Regions from separate parts of the Homo sapiens genome. Here region 1 is linked to region 2. Evidence: fine-mapped QTL for protein levels in blood plasma. A gene starts in region 2. The other region holds a variant in brackets. All regions are shown on one strand. Distances are from middle to middle.

What was found. PIP is the posterior inclusion probability: the model's chance that the variant is causal. Protein levels are from the aptamer-based SomaScan assay of Sun 2018.
Region 1: its variant is fine-mapped to the plasma level of the IL1RAP protein (Sun 2018, PIP 0.95).

What each region holds. Positions count from the first base shown.
Region 1 is chr3:190,628,401-190,630,900 of GRCh38, reverse strand. It overlaps IL1RAP (interleukin 1 receptor accessory protein), which reads right to left. Exons shown (of 12, transcript NM_002182.4): 9 at 1,403-1,551. Among named protein-coding and RNA genes, the nearest start is that of LINC02013, 70 kb to the left of the region's middle. The variant A/G (reference allele first, on the strand shown) is at 958.
Region 2 is chr3:190,512,744-190,515,773 of GRCh38, reverse strand. IL1RAP (interleukin 1 receptor accessory protein) reads right to left here and starts at 1,689. Exons shown (of 12, transcript NM_002182.4): 1 at 1,555-1,689. RefSeq lists enhancers at 499-998, 999-1,500, 2,253-2,342 and a silencer at 1,753-2,102.

The DNA of each region.
Region 1 (2,500 bases), 120 kb before region 2:
CCTTATAAGGTAGTGGTATTATTGTGTCTACTTTAAATATAAGGAAATTAAGGCTCAGAGAGATTTACTTTTCACAGAGTTAGGATGTGCAGAAACCAGAATTTCAACACAGGTGCTCTGATTCTAGAGTACAATAATGCATTGCAGGACAATACTGATTCTTAGTAGTGTTCCCGAGAACTCAATTTGGGAAACTGCCTTACATCATGTACTTCAGTCTTTCCTTTTCACACTGGCTTCTGAGGAGCAGAAGCAATGAATTACCCTGAACTGATTCACTAGTACTTCATACGCAGCATATACATTTCAGGCCTTTGCTATTTAGTTTTAAAGTTGTAATGAAAGTTTGAGGTGAATCCTGTTTTTCATCAGCTTTAAAAAAGCATTAAGTCTCTGTAAAATGTAACAATTATGTGCTATGTTATTCACTTTTGAAGAAATATTACACACTCTATAGACTAGGAGCCAGGAGGATTCTGAATGACCTGATTTCATGATTTCATGTGTGATAACTCATCATTACTTTTCTCAAGACCATTGAAAACATCCTTGAAGGGATTTTCTGGGATTCTGTGTTAGGTGAGAGACACAAAGAAAGTTTTAGACACAGTCTGATTTAGGAGCAGCACTTCTGACAAGAAGGCTTTATAATTTCCATTTATTGTAGAATAATATAGTACTATCAACATAGAAATCATGTTTATACCATTTAAAATCATAATTTAAATGATTTTCATTTTAGCAATTGTGGCTGCTGGTATATTATAAACCTGCTTAAATATTGATACATAGTGTTTAAAATAATATTATAATTATGCATTTTTGGAAAATAAACATTCAATACCTTAATTAGTTGCATACAATTGGATGGCTGCTATTAATAATGTTTTACAACTACAGATAATGCTTCTAATAATATTAAAAGGTATATAATTCCCTTTCTGTTATTTGTTCAGG[A/G]AAAATTCCGAAAGTCTTAGGTCAGATGATGCAATCTTTTTTATGACTCTTGAAGTCTACCATGAATGATTTTTAAAAGGGTCTTAATAATTCACCAACAATATGTGGCTCTACCAGTTTTTTCTATCTTTGGTAGCTTTGAATATTTTCTTTGTTTTTAATTTTTCATAATTGTACAGACACAAAATTGTGTCTCACTGTACTCACGTCGATTTTTTTAGCTACATTTGGGCATTACGGTACTAACAATATCAGAAACAATATTTTGAGTATCTTACATAGATGAAAACTTTCATATTTTTCATTTAAGTTTGATTCATTACTATGGGTTAGATGCCGTCGGGCTAGGTGCTGGAGCTCTCTTGTTCTCAATCTCTCCTTTTGTCCTTATTCACCACAATGTTAATTTGGAGCTGAGAGATTCATCACTGACCGCATCTATTACCTTTCTGCTTCACCTTGGCTGCTTTGGCAACTTCGCCTTTGGCACTTCTAGCATGACAGACATAGCTGCGCTTGAGATCCTCAGAGGTAACTTTCTTGATGCTCAAAATCTGAGTTCTTGTTTCATCTTCTGTTCTACTATGACTTATACTAGAAATAGAGAGAAGAAAATCAAAGCATTTGAGAGTGACTCAAGAGCTATGGACTGTGTAGGAATCAGACAAGTAAGCAACCACAGACCCCCACTACAGGTGAGGGCGAGGAAGGTTGATAAGCTGAGCCACCTATAATGCAGTGATTACAAAGTATTAATGGTAAGATTCTAACACTATACTATACCATCTACGCTACACACTATCCCATTGTCTAGACCAAATCCCAATACTGGCTTCTTTTTATAGATCTCTCTTCAAAACAAAATGTCTCTTTTGCTTAAACTTCTGAGCCAGGATGCTGTATCAGTTTAGAGAGAAGCTTCTGGGGCCAGGTCCTTTTGGGTTTTTATCCAGGATTTGTCAATTCCTGGCTATATACTTTGGGTGAGATAACTAATCTTTCCAGGTCTCAGGTTCCTCTTTTGGAAAAGAGGGAAGTCATAATGCCCACACAGTGCATTACATGCATTAATTTATTCAGGAATTCTGAGGACTGAATATGCTAAGGCATGAATATTAGAATAATGCTTAATAAATATTCATGTAGGTATTACTGTTATCCCATAGGAATAGCTGATGCATTTCAGTGATTCCCAAAGCATGGATTCTGAACACAGCTAGAATACTGTGGTCAGAAATCTGAAATCTCATGGTTAAATCCTAACATATAAAAAGAGAAAGCTGTTATGAACACGTAAACTTTGTAAAAATAAATATATCCAACTCTCAGTGAATCAGAGATCAAGTGTTTTGGGTCCAAGATCAGAATTTAAAATCCCTTTGAACTCCTTTACTTATCGCAGAGAAAAATCTCTCTGCTACAGCTGACTGCCATCTAGGTTCTCTTTTTAACTAGGCTTACTGTCAGGTATGAGAATTTGGTTAAGGGCTCTGATTGGTTTTGCTTAAGCTTAACGCCACTGCTATCCTATGAACACTGAGTA
Region 2 (3,030 bases):
AGGATAGAAGGCTTAGAATAATCTGTAACACAGCTGCAACTTCCAACTTTGTCTTCTTGTCTTTCTGCCTCTCACCCATTTCAAGACCCTCTTTGTCAATAAAGGATGTCTCAGATCAGGGCAGTTCACAGGCCTGAGGTTTGACCTAAAAACTAGTAGGAAATTCATATCACCGAGAAACATCAATTTTACATTTCGAGCTAAGCATCCATGATCCACATCACATATGGACAACATTCAGAAAATTCTTATTATAAAAGAGTTGCTCAAATTCAAAAGAAGAAAGACACCACATTTACAGATTTTTTTAAAATGCCTCTGTAAGATGGTATGAAATCACCTTTCTGAAAACCCACTGTCTGCAAGGTTACTATGTAACAATATTTACAATAGTTGCCATTGGTTTTGAACCAACCAGATGCCAGGCCAGGCACTGTGCTAAACATGCTACTTGAATGATCCCATTTCATCCTTCCAACTACCCAAAGGGCTCATTGTGACCATTATAAATCTCCATTTTTTGGCTGGAAAAAAAAAAAAGGAAGAAAGAAAGAAAAGAAAAACCCAGTATCGGAAAGGTGAGATAACTTGCCCAAGTTCACACTGCTAATACATGGAAGAGCTGGAGTCAAAACTCAAGTCCTCTTTCTCATCCAGTAGCTAAACCAGGGATCTGTACAGCAGAGCAGCAGAATGCTTCGCGTGGCGCCCTGGTTCACAATTTCACAACCAGAAGGTGGAGGGAAGACAGGCTGTGGGCTAGCTCTTAAAGGAAACAGCCGAAGTTTGCTTTTATGTTTGTGATTTTCTCTTTAACTCAGCTTCCTTGCTCCCTCTCAGTATTTAGAAGAGGGAAGGGGCTCTATGGTTCCATGAAGTCAGCTCTTCCCAAGTGAGGGGCACCCTGTGCCCCACAGGGCCACTAGCTCCGCTTCCTCCGGGGCTGGGAAGAAACAGTACCATAGGAGGTCACTGGCGCCCGGGCCTCGCTCCTCTCTCCCCGCGCTCCTCCAGAAGCTGGTCCGACACCCTCTGAAGGGGCATCTTTCTGAGAAAGCAGGTCAGGGGAAGAGGGAGTGAGGCTGCAAGCAGCATTTTCCCAGGCTGTCACAGCTCTGCGCTGAGAGCGACGTGATACCGAGTGGGCGTGCTGGGACACACCGCTTCCTTCTGTCCTCGGCGCTTCCAGCAGCGGTCTGGAGAAACCAAGGAGGAGATGGGGGCGGGGGGTGGTAGCGGGGAGGGGGCGGTGAGGAGGAAAACAAGGGTAGACCCCTCAAAGGGCTGAGGATGGGGGCGGCAACGAGCAGACGTCCCACAACCGCGTTACTTAAATCCCTGCAAAGCAAAGATGGGTCTCTGAACGTTTGGGTTCGAATCCGGGCTCCAGTCCTAACTAGCAGTATGACCTATCCCAGCCGCTGCCTCGTTCTGTGCCTCAGTTTCCTCTTCTGTAAAGTAGGAGGGTTTAACGATAGGATCTCTAAGAATCCGTCTACCCTGAGATTCTGCGGCTTGGTGACTTCTGAGCCCTCACGGCGGCGCGAGACTCACCTTTCTTGGGAAGCTGAGAGGGCGCAGCAAAAGCAGCCGGGATGGGTGCAGTGTCGCCGGGCACTGCTTCCTTCCGCGCCTCTGGCCAAAGCGGACCCCGGAGACCTGGATCCCGGCAGTCTTCCCCAGTGAGCCTCTTACTTTCCGCCGCACTTTCTTTTCCCCCTTTGGGGCTCCTCCCCCGGAGCGGCGCGATTGGCCACGGCCTCACGGCTCAGGCTCCACCCGCCGCCTTGGCTCGCGATCCACCGGCGCTCTGGGCTTCCAGGAGCTGCGGCCGCGGGGCGGCGTCCTGGACGGTCCCGCCCGCCGCCAGGAGGCGCGGCGCCGGGCCCGCCTGCGGACGGATGCAAGGCTGCGCTCGGCCCCTTCGGCTCCCTGCCACCGCCTGTGCGGGCTTGAGCGCGCGGGGAAAGGAGAGGGTTAGTCCTGCAGCGCAGCTCGGCACGCTGCCAGGCGCTGTGGGAAGCTACGCCCCTCACTACACACCGAGGCGCACACATGCGCTCATTGCAAGATCGTGCTCTCGCAGTTGAGATCGGTGCCACCCTGCCCTTTCTTCCTGTCTCGACGTATTTAGCAATCATGCTGCAAGGCCTTGAATCAATTCAGACTGCACGATTTTCGCAACCACCCTGTGCCGGCACAGAGCGCGGCAGGATGTAGATGCGATCTCCGCAGTCCTGAGCTCTTGCTGTCTTGAACTGACATTCATATGAGCAAGCAACAGGACATGACAGCAAGACTAAATCTGTATTGTCCACTGGTAATATACCCATTGCCTAGCACAGTGCCTGGCACAAAGTAGGCACTCAATACATGTATGGGGAACGAATAAAAGAACTAATAGGTTACATAGAAGGAAATAATCTCAAAACAAATATTTGCCTTCATTCATTTCCATTTCCCCAAGTTTTTGCAAGAGCCTTCCTTCAGCTGCCCTCTGCCACTGTAGATGGTAGTCTGTAATATATCCCGGGAAGCGTTATAAAGGCTTTCATTAAGTCATCTCTCTTGTTCAGGCACCTTCTGCTGTGTTCCTACTGCTAGTGCCTCATGATTTTTCCTGACTGGCAAGGCCCTTCATGACCTGTCCCCATTTCTGAAACCCCCTAACCAAAGCCACCTACCAGACTGACGAGTCTTCGCACATCTTCTTGCTCATCACATCTTCTTTTCTCCTCCTCCTACCTAACTGAATCCTACTAATTTATTTTCAAGAATCAAGATTCAGAGAAAGCATTTAAGGAAAAGGAGAAAAAAGATGTGAAATAAGAAAAGGGCCCAGGTGAGTGGGAAGGAAATGAAACCAGCAGGTGCCCGTGCTGCTAAAGGTGCACAGCAGTACGAAACTCAGAGGCTGCCCCTGCCCTGGCGGAGCTTCAGTTCCTAAGGTGAAATATCAGTGTAATTGGAGCCATAGAAATGTTCATGATACTTTACTTCTTGACATCACTTATGAAAATTAATTGCTCA